3 linked regions of the Homo sapiens genome follow. The protein of the gene in region 1 binds, or shares a complex with, the protein of each later gene. Each region holds a gene or a part of one and is shown in the gene's direction. Other genes may lie near its edges.

Region 1 (8,754 bases):
ATCATGAGAACATTTATGTACTGCTTACGTAGGCCAGGTACTGTCCTAAGCAACATCATTAATTTATACAGTTACCCTATGAGGTAGAAATGATTATTGGTTCTGTTACATAGATGAGGAAACTAAGGCATTAAAAATTAAATAATTTGCACAAGGCTACATAGCTAATATGTGAGGGGATGAGGAGCCTGAAATTCAGTCTGGCTTAGATTTAGGCTTTTAACCTCGAGTGTTGTACTACCTTTTAAAATTACAGTTTTATGATTATAGTTGTCTCTCAGTATCTGTGAGGGATTGGCTCCAGGCTCACCTGTGGACACCAAAAGTCACAGATGCTCAAGTCCCTCATATAAAATGGCATAGTATTTGCATATAACCTACACACATTCTCTTGTATACTTTAAACCATTTCTAGGTTACTTAATATGTATATACTTTTATACTGTATTGTTTAAGGAATAATGTCAAGGAAAAAAGAGTCTGTATATATGTTCAGTACAGATGCAACGATCCATTTTTTTTTCCTAACGTTTTCAGTCTGTGGTTGATTGAATTCACAGAATACGGAATCCATAGATATGTAGGGCCGACTATATTTATTTTTAAGGGTGCACAATAGTTTTTGTTGTATTATTTCCCAAATCTCTAGAAACACTTTGTAAGGTGGATAAGTGTATATTCTTATAGAACCATATGCTTTAGAGGACTTGATTACTTCAAAATAGTGTATCATAGTAGGTAAAACCAATAATGTGCATTTTATTAAATACATGATTTAGTTTGTGAAAGATAACTTTTTAACAAAAGTACTTAAAATCACTTATGTATTCTGTTTTGATGCAGGAATATTATAGCATTTGGCTATAAATAATCTTTCTAAATCATCCCTAATATAATTAGGAGATTAATTTCTTGAGCTTTAAAAATCATGACATTTTATAGTTCTAACAGATAAGTTGTGTTGAATGTCTAGCACACAGTGCCTGGCAAGTAGAAGGACAAAAAAGAACAAACACTTCGAACAGGAACTGTTACATATGTTGACTCATTTACGTTTCATAGCAACCCTGAAGATTTAGCCAAGCCAGATAGGTGTTAAATATCAGGGCTGGGATTTGATTTCAGTTTGACACCAGTGCTTATACACTTTCTAATATGTCAATGATTATCATCCTTTTTCTGGCTCTATCCGATTCACAAATGCTAGACACTCTTGCTAGTGATATTTTTCATCGTATAAAGTACTTCTCAGTCTCTCCTTACAATTGAAAGTTTTTTTTAACTTTCAACTACCACATCCATAATAAATATTAGATTGTTTTTTCCTCCTGCTTATGTTTCCTTCAGAGCTTTTTTTCAGCTCAGCATATGATAATAATAGTAATGATTAATAATTTGTACCCAATGGTTTTATAAAGTGCTTTATGTGTATTAACTCATTTAATCCCATGACAACCCTGTAAGAGTAGGTATTGTTATTATCCCCATTTTACAAATGAGAAACTAAGCCACAGAGAGCCAGAGAGCTTATTTATAATCTGATCTAGAATCATATAACTAGTGAGTGGTTGAGCAGCTAATTACTCAAAAGTAGAAATCTTGCATTTTCCTTGAGTGTTTTTCACTTACTACCCATGTTTTATCAGAGCTACCTCTAGAATGTGTCTTCTGTCCATTTATTCCAAACCTAGTTTCTCCCAGTGGTACCAAGGAAGACCAGTATCTTATCCTTCTTGTCTTGGGGAGTTATTATGGCCTCTAATCCTTTTTAACTACTTCAAACGGCCTTTCATCCCACTGACAAACATTTTACTGAAACATAAATACGATTGTGTTACTTCCTTATTGAGGAAAAGAAGGGGAAATAATTTTTTGGAGAAAATTTTAAGACAGACTATACATGGAACCATAAGTTTTTAATAAGCTTAATATTGAATGATGTTTTCTTTTTTCCTATAGCCCTTGAAGAAAGCTGTTAGGATGATGGGAGCACCTAACCTAATAGCAGACAGTATGGAATATGGACTTAGTTACAGTGTCATTTCATACCTCAAAAAACTGAGTCAACAGGTAATATCAAGAAATAGAGTGAGCCATTAAGTATTTTGAATGGTTTTGGCTAGGATGGTTAAACAGGTTAAAAGCTAGTTCTTGATGGTTCTAATGGAATTCCATTATATTAATATATTACATTTTAGAGCCATATATTACATAATTCTGTCTCACATCCATGGTGTGCTATGTTTTGAAACATTAATTTGAAAATTATATAATAATTCCTAATTTATGAAAATGGCTTCATGAGTGTGGTCCTAGACTTGCTATATGTGAACATTATTTATCTTTTGAGAAATTTAGATTAGAAAGTCATTTTTCCTTAAAAAAGAAAAAAAAAACTCTTTATGTTTTGAAACCTGCAGATTTTTCTTTCAGAATGGGAGTTTCTTTGAAATGTTTGTAGAAAACACTGAATTTTGTCATTCTGGCCATAAGTCACATTAATAAATACTATAGTAGTCAAGCAGTATATAGTTTAACTGACTGTGAAATTATTAATGTCCTATGAAATACATTATTTCTCCAGTACTTCTGACATTGCTACCTTAACTACAAATCAAAAGGCAGTTTGGGAGGAGTCAAAACATTGCTTCTTGCTTTCCAGGGAAGAACTGCATAATTATTTGCCATATTGATGTGCTAGTAAAAATGTCTTACATAATGATGATTTTAAAAAAATAATTTACCGTCACCCCTGAATTGGGAATACACATTTTTGTTTAGTGTGCATTTATATTTCATGGTTTAGGTATAGTGGGTATTAATAAATAAAATAATAAATTGAAATTGTGTTTGTCCTGCTCCAAAAGTTTAGAGTTGTAATGATTTAAAATCATAAGACATTGTTGTTTAAACTATGTTTAATTTACCCAATACTTGACATAAACTATGCTACTTGAGTTTTTAACTTCTTATATACTTAAAAAATATATATTTAATTTATAGAAGATCATAACCATTAGTATCTGATTTATTAATTTAGATTTTATCAAGATAATTCTGACTTATTTTTACTTTAGGCCAAAATAGAATCTGATCGAGTCATTGGATCTGTAGGCAAAAAAGTAGTACAGGAGACTGGAATAAAAGTCCGGAGCCGATCACATGGTTTATCAATGGCATATAGGAAAGATTTTCAACAACTCCTCCAGGGAATTTCAGAGGATGTCCCTCACAGACTGCTAGACCTTAATATGAAGGAATACACTGGGTTCCAAGTTGCTTTGCTGAATAAGGTAATAATCATGAATTTAGTGCTACTCTAGTTATGTTCTGTTATGTTACTGGATAAATCACATTTTCTGTTAACTCTGACATTCAGTTTATCCAGACTTTAAAGAGTACTTCTGTACTCTTGTAGACTAATGATCATTATACTGTCACTGCTAGAATTAAAACAGTGTACATGGTGTGTGAATGAATGGATAGATTGATGAAGAGTAAACTAACTTGTTTATTTTATAGATGAGAAAACAGAGGTTTAGAAATTGCTTTAAGTTGCAGTAGTGGATGGTAGAATTCACTATAGTTTTGTACTTAAACTGATGACCCTATTAGACCCACAGCATGATCCAAAAATGCTTTGTGAGTACTCATGGTTACAGATATCTTTATCCCAGCAGCCTTTTTGTAGAAATAGGCAAGCTGATTCTAAAATTTATATGGAAATGTAAAGGTCCTGGAATAGCCAAAACAATTTTAGAAGAATAAAGTTGGAAGACTTATATCATCTGATTTTAAAACTTATTGTAAAACTTACTACAGTGATCCATGCAGTGTGGTGCCATCATAAGGATAAACATAGGAGATTAGTGGAACAGAATTGAGTCTAGATGTAGGCCCTCACACACACAGTCAATTCTTAACAAAGATATTAAAATAAGGTAGTGGATAAGAAGACAGTCTTTTAAACAAATGGAACAATTGGATATCCATATGCAAAATAATGAATTTGACCATTACCTCATATTATTTGAAGTGGTCGTGATCTTAAATGTAAGAACAAAAACTATAAACTTCTAGAAGAAAACATAGGAAAAAATCTTTGTGATGTTGAGTTAGCAAAGATTTCTAAAAGCACATAGCAAAAATGTTGATAAATTGAATTTCATTAAAATAAAAAATAAACTTTGCTCTTTAAAAGAAACATTAAAAATGAAGAGGGAAGCTACAGCTTGGGAGAAAAGCACATATCAAATAAAGGACTTGTATCAAAATATATAAAGAATTCATATAACTCAATAATAAAAGGACAAACATGGGCAAAATATTTGAACAGACATTTCACCAAAGAAAATATGCAAATACAAATAAGAACATGAAGTAACACTCAGCCTTATCAGCCATTAGGGAAATGCAAATTAAAACCATAACGAGATACTACTTCATAACTGCTAGAATGAATAAAATTTAAAAGACAAAAAATACAGGGATTGATGAGAATGTGGAGCAACCCTCCTAACATTACTGATAGAAAATAGTTGATATTTTCTTAAGAAGTGTAAACATAAATTTGCTGTACAATCAGTCATTCTACTTGTAGGCTTAGCATGCCAACATGGCAGCATTTTTCATAATAGCCAAAAACTTGTAACAGTCCAAGTGCCCATCAGCTGGTGAATAGATAAAGAAGATGTGGTGTGTCCATATAATAGACTACTACTCTGGAATAAAAAGGAACAAACTACTGATACATGAATAATGTCAATGAATCTCAAAAACATCATGCTAATTGAAAGAAGCCAAGTACAAAAGATTAGACGTTGCAAAATTCCATTTATAAAATGGAGCATAGAAAGAAAGCAAGTCACGTGGTTGCCTGGGGATAGGAATAGTGATTGACTGCAAGTGGGTACAACAAACTTGGGGATGGTGGAAATGGATTATGATGATGGTTTCACAACTATAAATTTACTAACATTCATCAAACTATATACTTAAAATAGGTGATTTTATGGTATATAAATTACACATCAAAGCTGTTTTTTAAAAAACTTCAGTTTTTAAAATTTGGAGATTGATTTTTACTTAAATGAGTTTACTTCTTTTATCCAGAATATATAATAAAATCTTTAGAGTTAGATGGTGAATTGAGATTGTTTGGTTGAGCTCACTACCAAATTTTCATCTTTTGGCCCTGAACCGGTACATTAAGATTATATCATATGTCTTTATTTTATTTTTTTTAAGCTAACCAGTTTATATATCTTATTTCCAAACCTATGCTGCAGGCTAGAGATTTTAGTCTCTTGTAATTCTATGTTTGACAATAAATTTTGTCCTCGAATGTTGTTTAATAGGATTTGAAGCCACAGACATTTAGAAATGCTTATGACATACCAAGACGAAATCTTTTGGATCACTTAACAAGAATGAGATCTAATCTTTTGAAGAGCACTCGCAGATTTCTGAAAGGACAGGACGAAGGTTAGAACATAGTTTCAATACTGGTATTTTTAATTTTTTTTCTTTATAGTCTGAAAAAGCATAGCATGGTGATGTAAATTTCAAAGAATTATTACAGTACTATAACATTCTTATTGTAAGTTCAAACAAATGAAGTAAAAGGTGAATCATCCCTGATTCTGTACCTTTCTTCCTACCATCACTGTTGCCCCAAATTCTCTTCCCTAGAGGTAACAACCTTTCTTAACAGTTTAGTTTCCTTTTATAGCTTTTCTCATGCATTCATGCGCGCACGCGCGCGCACACACACACACACACACACACACACACACACCCACTTATCAAACTGTATACTTAAAATAAGTGATTTTTCTTATCTCAATCATTTTCTTGAGATAATACCAGTATCTGATGGTTTAACTCTGGATGGCCAGTTTCATGACATTTTCTGATAATTCCTTCTTCACCTTTATCCATGGCACCTACTATAAATCAAGTCAGATGAGACTTTAAACGTTTGCCACCTCTGATTTAAGAGTTCTAACAATAATTTTATATAAAAGAGTTAGCTATGCGACTTTTTTTTTTTTTTACCATACTGTACTTCCATTTTCTACAAATTCTACTATAATTAAATTCTGTTTATTTGGAATAGCGCAGAAGAGAAGAGATACATCTTTCACGGTAAGATCACACATACTTTTTTTTTTTTTTTTTGAGTCAGAGCCTTGCTCTGTCGCCCAGGCTGGAGTGCAGTGGTGTGATCTCGGCTCACTGCAACCTCCGCATCCTGGGTTCAAGCGATTCTCCTCCTTAGCCTCCCTAGTAGCTGGGATTACAGGCACGTGCCACCATGCCCTGCTAATTTTTGTATTTTTAATAGAGATGGGATTTTGCCATGTTGGCCAGGCTGGTCTCATTCCTTACCTCAAGTGATCCGGATGTCTGCCTCAGCCTCCCGAAGTGCTGGGATTACAGGCATGAGCCACTGCGCCTGGCCACACATACTTTCTGTATGTGTGGAATTAATGGCAATGTATGTATGTGTGAAATTAATGGCAATTTTTGTTTTGTTTAGATGATGAGATCAGTATTTTAAATTTTATTTTAAAATATTTTGTCGCAGTGGTTATAATTGCACCAAACAAATTTAGAATATGTTGGTAAAGAAGACTGTCTAGAATAACACTAGGTAGCATTCATATATAAGGAAACATTATTTGAGAACTAATTGGAGGTTAACTTTTTTTGCTGTTGTATTCTTTTTGAAAGATCAAGTGCACAGTGTTCCTATAGCACAAATGGGGAACTACCAGGAATACCTCAAGCAAGTACCTTCTCCACTAAGAGAACTTGATCCTGATCAGCCACGAAGGTTGCATACATTTGGCAACCCCTTTAAGCTGGATAAGAAGGTAATTTTGAAATGTTCTATTATGTAATTTGTTTATGGTAGGCACTGTCAGTTTTATAGTTCTTAATTTAACTGAAGTAAGCTGAAGCTATTTTCCTGGTAGAGTATCTAATAAATATGAACAGAATATAGTTACCTTCATTGGAATTGACACTGGTTGTGCCATTTAAACATTGTTTGTAAATTCAAGAAAGTTGTATTCTTTTTTGCTAAAGGGTATGATGATAGATGAAGCAGATGAATTTGTGGCTGGACCTCAAAATAAACATAAACGACCCGGAGAACCAAATATGCAAGGGATCCCTAAAAGACGTCGGTGTATGTCTCCACTACTAAGAGGCAGACAGCAGAATCCTGTTGTAAACAATCATATTGGGGGAAAAGGACCACCTGCACCTACAACTCAAGCACAGCCAGATCTTATTAAACCTCTTCCTCTTCATAAAAGTAAGAATTGTTTTTTTCTTAAACATTATTTGCTGCCTTTTGGTTCCTTTTCAAGGAAGATATTTTTGTTATAGATTATAGAAGGAAATTGATTAGTAGTACAATGAGTGAATGAATGTATAGAAAATTTGTTTAAATGAGCATGTAATCATTTTTGTATGTCTTTTTAATGAACATTTGAACATTTCTTATTTATGATGCTTTATTAGCTATTATGTTCTAACATACATTTGCAAATCTTTCAAAATAATACTTTCGAAAGGAGCATTATCACTATCCACAGAAAGATGGTTTTCAATTTCAGTTGAAGTCAACTAATTATTAAATATGTATGCTATTTTGGATAATGCTGTGCTTTGAGGTATACCACTGAAGACAGGAGTGATCTCTGCCCTCATTTATAATCAGCAAGGAAGGTCAGTCATTGAACAGATATTGGAAGTATGTTGAATGTTACGAAAAAGATGTCAAGTATATTCTGGAAGCATTTGGCAAGAGGATTTAAGTCAATGAAGTCAAGGCACTTAACTGAAGAAGTTAATGCTTAAGCCAAAAGCTGTGCCGTTTGCTTATGCTGGAGCAATAGTATGTGCAGAGGCATAAAGAGAAAGACATTAAGGGAATTTAAAAAATTCCAGTATAGCAAGGGTGTTGGGAATGAGGTAAGGTGAGAACTGAAAGATAGAAGCCAGATTATGGAAGGTCTTGGAAGCTATTTTCAACTTTATTCTAAGGACAGTGAGAATCCACTGAAAGGCTTAAAATGATGGTGACCTAATCTGATTAGCATTTTATGAAGACCAGGTTGACTGTAATGTGTGTGGACTATTATCAGAGAGGAGCAAGAATGAATGTAGGGAAACCCTAATGAATTAATGGACTTATCAATTATATATAGTGGTCATACTTACAGCATGTTAACTGAAGGGAAACAAAATATTATATGACTCCTGATGGAAGTATCCAATACTGCCTTTGAAGTTGTCTTACCCAAAAAAAAAAAAACCAAACACCAAAATTGAACATCAATGTAATCAAACCAATTTATAGGAAATACAGGGGACAGAGAAACATGTGGGATACCGTTAGTAAAATCCAGATTGTAGAAAACTCTACAGGACAAAGAATCTGTTGGGTTTTTTTCCTGGAAAAAAAATATTTTTTCCAGAAAAATAAAAGGGGTACGGAAGGATTTTACAGATTCAAATGTAGTTTAAGAGATATATAAGCCAGTTGCAATGTATAGGCCTTAACTGTACTCAGAATCAAACAAAATCAAACTTTTCCACAAACAGAAAACATGTTGGAGAGTATGGACACTGACTGTATATTTGATGTTATTAAATAATTGTGCATGCACAGGAATCAGTTGGGAAACCCGGGGAACAGATGCTGCTGACCTGACAGTGGGGTTTCAAGAAGAATATGTA
Region 2 (4,317 bases), on another chromosome or scaffold:
TAGATTTTTAGATTAATCTGTTACTACTAAAGTTTATTTTTAGAAAATTCAACATGAAATCATTTTATGGCAAACAAATTAAAGACTGCTGTCATATTTGTTTTGATTAAGAGGTTTTGTGTTTCTTTAATAAAAAATTCACTTTTTATAAAAGTGAATAAATTTATACTATAAAAAAATTGTTCCCATTCACATATAAAAAGCAAATGTCTTTTCTAACTTGCCCATCTAGCAAATAGGCAAGAAAATATTTATAGTTAAAAACTTGAGAAATTTGTTTTCTACACTGAAATAGTAAGAAATCACTTGGTCTCCATTGTTTGTGTTATATTACTTCTATGTGTCCTGATAGTATTATAAACCATCTGTCATCCTGTTGAAAAGCAATACTAAGCAACAGCAAGCCATTAAAATGAAATGCCAGACACATAGAACATGCTTTCTTGCTTGTACTTCCTAAGTGTTGGTCTTTTAATTACTAAAGGTGGGTTTTCTTTTGTGAAGTTTTTTGAAAGATCATTTAACCATATGGCAGACAGTTTTATGTTTAATAGCAAGAAAAGGAAAAAAAATTAGGTCTTTCATAACTGAAAATTAAAGGTTTACTTCTTGACTAACTTTTTCTCTCATTGCTGGTATATATTCCTCTAGGAATAAATGGTTTATGTAGTTTTTCTTCTCTGGATAACTTCATAAGATAGTTAATATGTTACTGTAAGAAAACTTCCTATCAATTTTCAGAGTATGTGGACAAATATCTGGATTCCTTCTCTTATAAATCGAATATCTCAGAACTCTATTTTTGTTACTTTTCACATTGATTAAAAATGTATGCATGCAGACAATATTGAAGGCTACCTTGATTTCAAGAGCTAAAAATGTTTTATCAACTATTTCAGAGTAAAGTTCTAAATTATAACTGGATATATTTTAGGTATAATAACTACCATTTTTTAAGTAGGATGTTATTTTGTAAAATTTTATCTTTTACCTATATGTGAATGTAATGCTTTTGTGAATCTTCTTAAGAGTATAAAGGTAGAAAAGGTGTCAATAAGAAGTTCAATTCAAAATTAATTTGAATACGTACATTTGTGCCTAATATGAAAGTGAAAAAATATATTCTTGTGTGAACAAGAGCAATATGTATTTATATAGTGGCATTGGTACCATTGTGAGCTTCTGATTAGCCAGGAAAGTTAATCAGAGAAGTTGAAGTGTTATACCCTTATGAAATATATCAGAGAATGAGATCAGTCCTACCCAAAATGTCACTGTGCAGCCTAATGAGGCAATTGATAAAATCCTTATTAAAGGAGCAGGAGACTCTTACATGATAGTTTAACCGGAATCATGGGCAAATTGTGAAACTAAAATCATGAGAACTTTTTAACACATCATAAAAATTGTACACTTCCAAGTAATTAACTTTGCATATATTTTGTACTCCTGTAACTGTTGCTCAAAATTTAGGAGGACATTTTTTTTTAATGGGTTTAGAATCTATACAGCTGTCTTCTTTCTCTCACACAGTCACTCAGTAAATAAATATTGACTGAATCTCTTCATCTTGGATATGTTCTCCTGAATATTCTGGGTATGGGCATTTTTGCTATTAAGAGTGAATTAAATTTTTGAAATGATCCCTAGTTATTTGGAGAAAAGTCTAAAAGAATTAGATGTTTAACTAAGGTCGATAATACTTTGTTGGGTAAAAACTATGTTAAAGCACTAAATCTGGTTTTCAGATATAGCTTAGAATTGAATCTAAAAGCAATTCCCAAAAAGGAATTTCATATATTTTCTTTTGGAATCATTAGAACAAGAATATGGTATCAAAAATTTTCTGCTTTGCAAATGATAATACCCACTAGATACAGATAAGTTTTGTTCTGTGTGGTTTTTCAGATCAGCTTCATAAGAACCTAATTTGGTGGTGTGATTTAAATTTCCCAATTCATAACTTGGGATGTTTATACAGGTACTGATTAAACTTGGCTCTAATGTAATTATTTACTTTATTTTTTTAGACATCCACAGTTATTTCAGGAAATTCTTCTAGTGCCAGCGTTTCCTCGTCAGTAACTAGTGGCTTAACTGGATGGGCAGCTTTTGCAGCCAAAACTTCCTCTGCTGGTCCTTCAACAGCAAAATTGAGTTCAACAACACAAAACAATACTGGGAAACCTGCTACTTCGTCAGCTAACCAGAAACCTGTGGGTTTGACTGGTCTGGCAACATCATCCAAAGGTGGAATAGGTTCCAAAATAGGTTCCAATAACAGCACTACGCCCACTGTACCTTTAAAACCACCTCCACCTCTAACCTTGGGTAAAACTGGCCTTAGTCGCTCAGTTAGTTGTGACAATGTCAGCAAAGTAGGTCTTCCTAGTCCAAGTAGTTTAGTTCCAGGAAGCAGCAGCCAACTAAGTGGGAATGGAAATAGTGGAACATCAGGACCTAGTGGAAGTACTACCAGCAAAACTACTTCAGAATCCAGCAGCTCTCCCTCAGCATCCCTTAAAGGCCCAACTTCACAAGAATCACAGCTCAATGCTATGAAGCGATTACAGATGGTCAAGAAGAAAGCTGCCCAAAAGAAACTCAAGAAGTAATGTGGCCAAGTAGGTTTTTGTATCATATTAGCCTAAAGATGAAAGGCTTATTATTATGATATAATCTGTAATACACTGTAATTTAATAAAAGTCTTCATAATCAAATTTCTATTGTTTCTTACCTTAAAATGCTAAATATTATATAACAAAACTTGGAAACTTTCATTTTAAATCAATCTTCAACATTTTTATTCTAATGATTTCCATAGTGTGTGAAAACAATGATTAGAATGACTGGTTCTCAATGAGATCTTCAGAAGATTGAAAGCATCTGTGAATTTAAGGAAAAAGAAATAGTTCATCTTCTAGCAAAGCCCCAAGAGTTGATCCTGATGAATGAGGTGCCTTATGTGGCGGCAGGGACGACCCAACATAGTTTTCTATTTTCCTCCCCGTATTCTGGGTGTTCATTTTCTGTGCTAGCCCCATTTCAACTGACTCTCCCTCTCCCTCCCAATTATTTCATCTTTTTCAAAATTATTTTTTCATTATTGATTTCTCATATCAATGGATTTTCCTAATTGATTTATCATACTTCATATTATATCTTTACCTTTTTTATCACCTCATTTCAATTATTTAAGGGTATATCTTTTTCCAATAAATTGTGAACTCTCCTGGTGCTTAATACAATATTTTTTCTCACATTGCTCACTTTTCCTACATTGCCAATGTAATACATGCACATAGTACGTAATAAATGTTGAATTTTGATTCATCTTGGTTATGCACATTCCTGATAAGTTTTGAAGAAAAATACCATTTCACAAAGGTCTTTGCAGATGGAAATATATGACTTGTTCACACACTGATGGCTTCTTCCTATACCATGAAAGAAAAGGCTATCTTACTTAGTGCTCAAAATGTTATAGCACTTTACCTAATTTTAGCTAACTTTGTATACAATAAGCTCCTATATAATGATTAATTCTTGAGATTGTTTTGTACATTGTTAACCCATTTATGCCAGAGGTTGCAAATTTTTTTGGTGAAAAATCAGACCTGATGATGACCTTGAACAGTAGGATATAAATAACTCTATAAGCCGAGCATTGCAATAATGGAACACTAGGCATAAGTGGGTTAAGTCAGAAAATGTGGAAGGTCTGCGTTGTTGTCTTACTTGCAAGCTAACAAATTAACCAGCAATTGTTGTACATGTATATTCTGAGAGAAGATAGGAAGCCCTCTGCATCAGAGAAACAGTTTATTATTCACAGCAAAAAAACTGGATATCCAACAAATTCACACATTCACAAGACTATGAACAGCCTGTTCCATCAAACTTGATTTGTGCTACTAAATCTTCACTCTACAAATCTCTAATCTCAAACTGTCTTCCTTAATCCCTAGGTTTTTCTAACATCATTATTCTAAAGTATATTGATAGGTGATCTCTGTAAACACAAAGCTTTTAAAATTAAGCTTGGTCTTTTTTTTTTTAAGGAAAGATTATTATTTTAAACTGCTCTGTTAAATAATGGTGCTAAATTATTTGTAGTAAATTAGAATCCAGGATTGAGATAATCCATTATCTCAATTATGATCTCAATAGGCAGTAAATGTCTGTTTACCCTATATGTAAATAATGAATTATCTCAATCCTACAGAGACTTTTGCTTTGAGAAACAGATTTATTTTGATAAAACATCAATTTGACATAAACCCCAATTTCCCTTTGGGGTCAAAGAAACCAAAAAA
Region 3 (9,752 bases), on another chromosome or scaffold:
AGATCACCTGAGGTCAGGGGTTTGAGACCAGCCTGGCCAGCATGGTGAAACCCCATGTCTACTAAAAATACAAAAATTAGCTGGGCATGGTGGCAGGCGCCTGCAATCCCAGCTCCTGATGGGGGCTGAGGCAGAATTGCTTGAACCCAGGAGGTGGAGGTTGCAATGGGCAGAGATCACACCACTGCACTCCAGCCTGGGCGACAGAGCAAGACTCTCAGAAAAAAAAAAAAAAAAGCCAGGCGTGGTGGCAGGTGCCTGTAATCCCAGCTACTTGGGAGGCTGAGGCAGGAGAATCGCTTGAACCCCAGAGGCGGAGGTTGCAGTGGTCTGAGATTGAACCACTGCACTCCAGCCTGGGTGGCAGAGTGAGACTCCGTCTCAAAAAAAAAAAAAAAAAAAAAAGACATGAAGGTGACATCCAGGTGCAGGGGACTGGGGCATCAGTGACTGACCAGAGAAGGAGGCCACTTGAGCAAAGACCAGAATGGGGTGGACAGGGAGTCCCAGGACCAGCTGGGGGGTTTCTGGGCACAGGAAACAGCGCATGGAAAGGCAGGCACCTTCCGGAAACAGTGAGAAGGCTGAGGTGCGGGGTGGGGCGGCATCGGGGGAGGTGAGACGGAGATGTAGACCCTGCAGGACCCGGCAGTCCTCGGCGTGGGGCTGGGACGGGGCGAACAGTGGCCCCATAGCCCACGTCCACCGGAGCCACAGGATGGGAGCTTATTTGCAAACAAGGTCTTTGCAGATATAAACTTATTTTTTTATTTTATTTTTTTTGAGATGGAGTCTTGCTCTGTCGCCTAGGCTGGAGTGCAATGGTGCGATCTTGGCTCGCTGCAGCCTCCATCTCTCAGGTTCAAGTGATTCTCGTGCCTCAGCCTCCGGAGTAGCTGGGACTACAGGCACCTGCCACCACGCCCGGCTATTTTTTTGTATTTTTAGTAGAGATGGGGTTTCACTGTGTTATCCAGGATGGTCTCGATCTCCTGACCTCGTGATCCGCCCGCCTCAGCCTCCCAAAGTGCTGGGATTACAGGTGTGAGCCACTGCGCCCGGCCTTGGATAATTTTTTTCTATTTTTAGTAAAGGCAAGGTTTCGCCATGTTGGCCAGGCTGGTCTCGAACTCCTGACCTCAAGCAATCCGCCCGCCTCAACCTCCCCAAGTGCTGGGATGACAGGCGTGAGCCACCGCACAGGCCTAATGAAGGTAAAGATCTTGAGATGAGATCATCCTTGATCTGGGTGGGCCCTAAATCCCTTAACAGATGTCCTCACGAGGCACAGAGACACAGAGAGAAGACGGCCACATGGAGTCAGAGGCAGAGGCTGGAGGGATGTGGCCACGAGCCGAGGACCCCTGGAGTCCCCAGGAGCTGGTCGAGGTAGGCAGCGTCCTCCCCTAGAGCCCTCCGAGGGAGTCAGCCCTGCCCACACTTTGACTTCAGACTTCTGGGCTCCAGAACTGCAAGAGAGGACATTTCTGTGGCTTTAAGCCACCGAGTCTGTGGTGCTTTGTTAAGAGCTGCTGTGGGAAACAACCACAGGTGTTCATTTTACTGTTCGGGTGATAAGCAGAGTCTTTGGAGAATTCTGAGCAGGGGAGGAACATTTGATTATATCTTTTTGTTTTTTTGTTTTTTTTGAGATGGAATCTCGCTCTGTTGGCCAGACTGGAGTGCAGTGGTACGATCTTGGCTCACTGCCACCTCCACCTCCTGGGTTCAAGTGATTCTCCTGCCTCAGCCTCCCAAGTAGCTGGGACTAAAGGCACCCGCCACCACGCCTGGCTAATTTTTGTATTTTTAGTAGACATGGGGTTTACTATGTTGGCCAAGCTGGTCTCAAACTCCTGATCTCAGGTGATCCGCCTGCCTCAGCCTCCCAAAGTGCTGGGATTAAAAGCCACGGCACCCGGCCTAAAAATTAAATTTCTAATAATTTTTTTTTTTTTGAGACAGAGTCTCACTCTTGTCGCCCAGGCTGGAGGGCAATGGCATGATCTTGGTTCACTGCAACCTCCGCCTCCCACGTTCAAGTGATTCTCCTGCCTCAGCCTCCCAAGTAGCTGGATTACAGGTGTCTGCTACCATGCCCGGCTAATTTTTGTATTTTTGTAGAGACCGGGTTCCACCATGTTGGGCAGGCTGGTCTTGAACTCCTGACCTCAGGTGATCCACCCGCCTCGGCTTCCCAAAGTGCTGGGATTACAGGCGTGAGCCATCGCGCCTGGCCATAAAAAATATTTTCAAAAAGTGAGCAAACAATTTGAACAGACACCAATAATGCAGATACACGGATGACAAAAAAAGATGAGAAAACGCTCATCATTACTCATCAGGGAGACGCCGATGAAGAGCACAGGGCAGACCCTGCACACCCCCCCAGGATGACGGAACGCCTGTGGTCCTGCCCGGGCCATCAGTGGAGAAGCCATCCTTGGAATCTGGAATCCATCTGGCGGGTGCTACTCAGCAGCTGACAGAAGCCACCGATGCCTGCAACGCTGGGGTAAGTCTCAGAATAATGATGCCAGGCCGGGCGCGGTGGCTCACGCCTGTAATCCCAGCACTTTGGGAAGCCGAGGCGGGAGGATCACGAGGTCAGGAGATCAAGACCGTTGTGGCTAACACGGTGAAATCCCGCCTCTACTAAAAATACAAAAAAAAAAAAAAATTAGCCGGGCGTGGTGGCCAGCGCCTGTAGTCCCAGCTACTCGGGAGGCTGAGGCAGGAGAATGGCGTGAACCCAGGAGGCAGAGGTTGCAGTGAACGGAGATCGCGCCACTGCACTCCAGCCTGGGTGACAGAACGAGATTCCATCTCAAAAAAAAAAAAAGAATAATGACGCCGAGCAGCTGGCCAGGGAGCGTGCACTGTGTGCTTTCATTCACACAGACTCCAGAAGAGCAAACAGCGCCTCTCCAGGGACAGAAAGTGGCGCCCTGGCGGCCTGGGGACAAGTCAGGGGTGGTTTGGGAATGTTCGTTACAGGGTTGAAAGGGATGGGGGATGGGGCCACAGGTACGTGTGAATGTCAACACGCATCAGTGTGCACCCTTTACACCCTTTACACACCTGCAGTTTATCAGACGTCAATCATAACTCAAAAAAGCTGTTTTCAAAAAGAGGCGGGGAGAGGGAGGAGGAAGGCAAAGAGGTAGAGGAGGGGGAGGAAGAGGAAGAGGGGAAGGAGACGGAGGAGAAAGAGAAGAGGGAGGAGGAGGTGGTCAAGGTTGACTCCTGAGTTTTTAGAGAACGAGGAAGACGAGGAGCAGGAGGAGAGAGAAGGGGGAAGAGGTGGTCAAGGTTGACAGGAGGAGGAGGAGGAGGAGGAGGAGGAGGGGGAGGAGGGGAGGAGGGGGAGGAGGAGAAGAAGGGGAACGAAGGGGAGGGGGGAGGGGGAGGAGGGGGAGGGGAAGGAGGGGAGGGGGAGGGGGAGGAGGAGAGGAGGGGGGAGGGGGAGGAGGGGGAGAAGAAGGAAGGGGAGGAGGGGGAGGAGGAGGGGGAGGGGGAGGGGGAGGGGGAGGAGGAGGTAGTTGTTCTCAAGGTCGACCCTGAGGTTCTGGCCTGGGCCCGGGTGAGGGCATTTGCCGAAGGCACAGGCCCCGCATGCAGGGGCGGTGATGCTGGTCAGAGGATGAGGAGAGGCAGGTGGCGGGGCAGAGGAAGCTCTGTGCAGGGTGCTCCCATTCAGGTGACAGGAGGAGGAAGCATTACCCCATCGGATCTCCCCTCCCCTTAGAGAGTTACCCTGAGGGACAGATTGAGAAACTGTAGAGGGATGAAGCCGCACAGCCCCCGCCTGGCGTCCGGCAGGGATCCGCGCCTGACCGGCCTCTCCTCCCATGGGCACCACGGACGTCTCCTTCCGGACTCGCTGCCCACACAGCGCAGGGTGCAGGGCCCTGGAGCCCTTGGGGTCCTGCGGGGACCCAGCTGGTGCCCACAGGAGTGGAAAGAGACCGTGGCGGGTCACACAGCAGTTCTCAGGCTGCAGCCTGGGGCCATGAGCCTCACTGAGGCCACAGTCAAATGGCCACACCCAACTTCAGGGGCACAGGGAGACCAGCTCTGCCTTGCGGTCCCTGGATGAGGAGATGGGACACACCGGGCAGGCGGTGCTCAGGACTCCCTCGGTGGCGGGGCAGCGTTCGAGTCAGTGCCCTGCTGGGAACAGATCTCCAAGATGTGGTTAAGTGGCAAAAGCCAGGTGCAGAAAAGAGGAGCCGTGCGCTACCTGCAGGGTGACAAGGCAGAGGGAGGCACACGGGTGGCTGCCTGAACGCACACGGAAAAGCCGGGAACACAGGCACAAATCAGAACACAGGCTGACTCCAGGGGAGGGGACCAGCTGCTCAGGGGTCAGGGGAGACCTTCGACCCTTTGACTGGATGATTCCCCCACCTTTTATTTTTATTTTTTTTTAGACAGGGTCTCGCTCTGTCGGCCGGCTGCAGCGTAGTGGCACCATCATAGCTTACTGCAGCCTTGACCTCCCAAGCTGAAGAGATCCTCCTACCTCAGCCTCCTCAGTAGCTGGGACCGTAGGCATGCACCACCATGCCTGGCTAATTTATTCTTGATTTTTGTTTGTAGAGATAGGGTCTCACTATGTTGCCCAGGCTGGTCTCAGACTCCCACTTTGGCCTCCCAAAGGGCTGGGATTAGAGGTTCATGCCACCATGCCCAGCTAATTTTTATTTTTTTGTAGAGATGGGGGTCTTGCTATGTTGCTCAGGCTGGTCTCGAACTCAACCGATCCTCCTGCCTTGGTCTCCCAAAGTGCTGAGATTACAGGCATGAGCATCACACCTGGCAACTGTATGATCTTTTGTGTCTTTTGAGTTTTGTTCCCATCAGTGTTTCCATTAAAAAAAAAAAAAAAAAGGCGTGGGGGCGGGGCGGGCGCAGTAATTCCAGCACTTTGGGAGGCCAAGGCGGGCGGACCACCTGAGGTCAGGAGTTCGAGACCAGCCTGGCCAACATGGTGAAACCCCGTCTCTACTAAAAACACAAAAAAATTAGCCAGACATGGTGGCGGGCGCCTGTAATCCCAGCTACTCGGGAGACTGAGGCAGGAGAATCGCTTGAACCTGGGAGGTGGAGGTTGCAATAAGCCGAGGTCGCGCCACTGCATTCCAGCCTGGGCGACAGAGCGAGACTCCGTGCCAAAAAAAAAAAGAAAAAAGAAAAGGGTGAACTTTGTGGAACACGAGTTCTATCTCAATAAAGCTATTATTATTATTATTATTATTATTTGAGACAGGGTCTCTCCCCGGGAGCCCCCCGGGCTGCGCCCCCTCGCCAGTGCCTGCGCCCCGGCCGCCCCCGCTCTCCGGGACGTGCAGAACCTGCCACTTGACTCATCCGCGGATCCCTGACGCCACTCCTCCCCGCCGTGCGTCCTGGAGTGCGTCCCTTCGCAACGCCAGCACCACCTGTGAATGGAGAGGCCAGCGCCTGCCCCGCGCCGCCGACCCACCTGGACCGGACCACATGCGCGCGGCGCCGGCCAGCCCGCCTCCCGCCGCCATGGGGCGCTGCAGGCATCAGGCCGGCGCCGCGGGCCTCTCGCGCCTCCTTCTGGGCCCGCTTCCCGCCGCACTGTTTTCCTTCCGGTTGTTCCGGAAGTCGGGTCCTCGAGGGCGGTGAGATCGGTTTCCGATTCCGGGGTGGCCGGGTGGCGGCGGCGGCGCTCCGGTCGCGATGGGCCAGAGGTAAGTGAGCCGCGGCCTGGGCGCTTCCTCATTGCCGGGCGAGCGCCTGGTTCTCCCGGCTACCGCTCCCGGCCTCTGGGCCGTCCCTTCTGGTTCTGCCGCCTCCAGCCCGGCGTCCGCGTCGCCTGCTGCCGCCCGACTGAGCCGCTCCCGGGCGGCTGGGAGGCGGGGTCCCTGCAGCTCCTGCAGCATCGCCCCGCCGGGCGGGCGCGGGACCACTGTCCCCGGGTCCCAGGCCCAAGCCCCGTGCGGCAAGGGAGCGAATGAGCGAGCGAACGAGCGAATGAGTGAAGGAATGACCGCACGCTGGCTCCTCCGCAGGTGACGCCGCAGCCGCCGGGAGCCGCGAGGGACGGGGCAGGATGAACCGGGCCAAGCCCACCACGGTGCGCCGGCCCAGCGCCGCGGCCAAACCCTCAGGTGCGTCTCCCTCCTCGCTCTGCAGCCCGGGGGTCTTTGGGGGTCTTTGGGGGTCTTTGGGGATCTCAGCTGCCGCGGATCCTGCGTTGGGCTTGGTTGTTCCGCAGCCGCGGCTGTTTCCAGGAATTCGGTCTGGAAACACTGCTCTCGGTCCTCAGCGGCTCTGAGAGTCCCTGGGAGGCTTGGGACAGTGGCGACTTCCTTCGGGACCCCGGTGATCTCGTTTCAGGCTGAGCTGCAAGGCGGCCGACAGTAGCGGAAGGTCTCCCCAGCCAGGAGGCGGGAGGCAGCACAGTGTAGCGTAGCACGGGGTCTGCGGCTGAACTGTCGGCTCAGATCCTCCGGACTTTGCCACTCGCCTGCTGTGTGACGCTGGGCACGTCGCTTAACCTCTCTGTGTCCCTTTCTCTCTTGTAAAGTTAGAGTAATAGCACCTATTGCGGAAACTCGGGGCGGGGGTTACTAAGCACACTAATTTGGATAGACCAGAGATGGCCTGGTTTGTGGTTAGCGCTACGTGACTGTCCACCATCACCTGTGCGTATCCTGCTGGTCCCAGCTCTGCTGTAGGCTGCTGAGTGAGCTCTGGCTTCTTCCTTGCCTCCTCTGACCCTTGTTTAATCCCCTCTGACATAACAGGAGGTTAGAGTCAGTCTTTTTCCATCTTGGGTGTTGCAAATGTGCCCGGTTTTCTCTCTCCTTTCTCTGCAGGGCACCCTCCCCCAGGAGACTTCATTGCTCTGGGCTCAAAGGGTCAGGCCAATGAATCGAAAACGGCGTCCACCCTGCTGAAGCCAGCCCCTTCCGGCCTGCCTTCTGAGCGCAAGCGGGATGCGGCGGCCGCGTTGTCCAGTGCCTCGGCCCTCACCGGTCTCACCAAACGCCCCAAACTCTCCTCCACACCCCCTCTGAGTGCCCTGGGGCGCCTGGCTGAGGCTGCAGTGGCAGAAAAACGAGCCATTTCTCCGTCGATTAAAGAGCCATCTGTGGTGCCAATTGAAGGTAATGAGTCTGTGGACATCCCCCGAGAACACCCCTCAGCTCATGCCGTCCATCAGGTGTTCAGGGAAGGCCCCCTCCAGGCCTAGTGCTGCCCGTATGGCCGAGGTCCTTTGGGAGAGCGGATGTTTGTGGCTTGTTCTTGGAAGTGCTTCTCACGTAGATGCCCTTATCCCGTGTGTGCATCTGCGTCCTGCACTGCCAGTGGCTGCCCTTTGAGAACCGGGTCACTCCCTTATTGAGTTGTTTGTCTCATGTGTCTGTTGGACGCCCCCTTTGTGACGGGCACTGTCTGAGCCCTGGGGGTAAACCGGGCGTGACGACACCCCAGGTGTCTGTTCTCAAGGTTGCCCATCCTGGTGCGTTCCTCTCTCAACCTGAGCGGAGGCGATGTGTACTTGGTTCCTCCTTCCCTCCTGGTTACCAACAGAGAAGAGTTGATCCCCTCCCTGTTTTCAGTTGAAAAGCAGCAGAACAGTAAGGACATCAACGGGGGAATGTAAGCTTCACCACTGTCCCGTTCTCGCAGAAATGCCTTTAACTGTGTGCCTAGAATCGCCCCTGCCCCTCTGCGCCATTTTCCCAACGACCATTTCTCAAGGCTCCGTGACTCCCTGGGAGTCGCTCTGGCAGCTATCGCACCAGCCCCAGCAAGCCTCATGGTCTGCAGTGTTTTGTTTCTGTGGGAGCATCTCTTTTGGGTAATTTCTTTGTAGGAGTCAAAAAGAACAAGTGTCCTGATGACTTTGGTAGTGAGGTGTCTGTTCAAGCCGCGCCACCTCTGGTTACTGAGTTTTGTGCCAGACAGGACCCAGGGGACTTGTGGGCTGTGGCCTTGCCCTCAGGGAGGGACCAGGCTGCTGCAGTGCAAGCCTGTGAGTGAGTCCCCGACGGCCCTGGAAGGGAGGAGGCCTGGCAGGGAGTTGCAGTATGGGCTTGGGCCTGGAAGCACAGGCGATGAAACCGGGGCAGGCAGGAAAGGGAGATGCCAAGCAGAGAATGGACTGTGCCCAGGGAATGGAGGCCTGGCCTGGCCTGGGCAGCACACGCTCATGAGAGCTGAGGCTGGGCGCTGTGGGCAGTGTTTGTGCTGGACTCAGTTGGCATCAGGGAGCCCTGGGGGCAAACGGCCCAGGATGGCACAGCTGGGGGACTGCTTTAGGAGGTCGAGCCTCAGACCTCCCATGAGGCGTGTCCCTGGGCAGCTGGTGCCGGTGGGGATTGAAGACAGAGACCACAGGCCTCATCCTGGCCCGGGCTCTCGGCCGCCGGCGGCTCGGTGCTTTATTTATCTTTAGCACTACCTCCTGTAGAAAGGAGGTTTTGAAGATGAGAGGAGACGTGGTTATGAAAAGCGTATTCTGAGTGGTAGATCACTTTATAGTATTATTCTCAGCAAAACAGAGAGATGGCTGCATCCAGCCATTTGTGGTAAATGTCCCAGGCTGTCCCTCCATGCTGGCAGCCCACTTGTCCCCCAGCTTGTCTCGGCATCAGGAAATTTATTCCAAGTCTCTGTCCCGGGCGCAGTTAAGGTAGATCACAATGCCTCTGTCCACATGTGTGTGGATATGTATTTACTTATTATTTATTATTTATTTATTTATTTATTTTTTTTTGAGACAGAGTCTCGCTGTGTTCCCCAGGCTGGAATGCAGTGGCACGATCTCGGCTCACTTCAGCCTCCGCCTCCCGGGTTCACATGATTCTCCTGCCTTAGCCTCCCAAGCAGCTGGGATTACAGGCATGCACCACCACGCCTGGCTAATTTGTGTATTTCTAGTAGAGACAGGGTTTCACTGTATTGGCCAGGCTGGTCTCGATTTCCTGACCTCAGGTGATCCACCTGCCTCAGCCTCCCAAAGTGGTGGGATTACAGGTGCTAGCCACTGCACCTGGCCGTTTGTGGATATTTAAAAACACAGTCCTAAAAAACTGTTGGGACAGAGAAGAATCAGAATGAAAATGAGAAAACCTCCGATCCAACAGTGGCAAACACGACGATAGGAAAGGTGTGTGCTGGCCCTGGTGCTCCTCAGAGGATGTGGGAGGGTCAGGCACTCGTCTGGAGGAAGGTTGTGAGCCGAGCACCCATGGAAAGAGGGAGGAAAAGTGGGAAGAAGGGCATGCTGGAGACTGGAGCTGGGGTGGGTGCGGAGAGAGGGCCACTGTGCTGCGGTCCACAGTGAGAAAGAAGCCGCCAGACGGAGCCACGATTCAGTGGAAAGTAAAGCTGCAGGTGGCCTGGCTTGCTGGGAAATGTCTGTAGCCTTTGGGGTAGTCGTGTGGGACACAGCGGAGCCAGGACTGGAGTGGCTGGTGGGCTAGTGCTGAGGCCTGTGGGGCAGCCTGTTGTATTAAGGGGACCATCTGGTGGGGTGCTTGTCCGCTGTGGGAACTTTGCTGAGGGTGGATCGCTGGTCCCTGGCAGGGCCGACCCTGAGAGCTCTGGGTTCCTCGTGGTCTTCCCGGTGTCCCGAGGCTTTGGGGTGACCCTGCCCTGGCCCCGTTCTGACCGTACCGCCTGCCCCGGCCAGTGCTGCCCACGGTGCTGCTGGATGAGATCGAGGCGGCCGAGCTGGAGGGCAACGATGACAGGATCGAGGGCGT

What was found. Proteins that work in one complex are often made in the same cells at the same time.
Region 2: INTS6 (region 1) and INTS12 share a complex: the UniProt entries of both Homo sapiens proteins name them as parts of the integrator complex.
Region 3: INTS6 (region 1) and INTS1 share a complex: the UniProt entries of both Homo sapiens proteins name them as parts of the integrator complex.

The regions. Positions count from the first base shown.
Region 1 is NC_000013.11:51,372,778-51,381,531, reverse strand, and holds part of INTS6 (integrator complex subunit 6), read left to right. Parts: intron 1-1,959; coding exon 1,960-2,070; intron 2,071-3,077; coding exon 3,078-3,293; intron 3,294-5,357; coding exon 5,358-5,484; intron 5,485-6,735; coding exon 6,736-6,878; intron 6,879-7,092; coding exon 7,093-7,324; intron 7,325-8,754. UniProt on the Homo sapiens protein: Component of the integrator complex, a multiprotein complex that terminates RNA polymerase II (Pol II) transcription in the promoter-proximal region of genes.
Region 2 is NC_000004.12:105,681,031-105,685,347, reverse strand, and holds the end of INTS12 (integrator complex subunit 12), read left to right. Parts: intron 1-2,030; coding exon 2,031-2,615; 3' UTR 2,616-2,721; downstream 2,722-4,317. UniProt on the Homo sapiens protein: Component of the integrator complex, a multiprotein complex that terminates RNA polymerase II (Pol II) transcription in the promoter-proximal region of genes.
Region 3 is NC_000007.14:1,500,294-1,510,045, reverse strand, and holds the start of INTS1 (integrator complex subunit 1), read left to right. Parts: upstream 1-5,656; 5' UTR 5,657-5,723; intron 5,724-6,044; 5' UTR 6,045-6,085; coding exon 6,086-6,143; intron 6,144-6,854; coding exon 6,855-7,145; intron 7,146-9,679; coding exon 9,680-9,752. UniProt on the Homo sapiens protein: Component of the integrator complex, a multiprotein complex that terminates RNA polymerase II (Pol II) transcription in the promoter-proximal region of genes.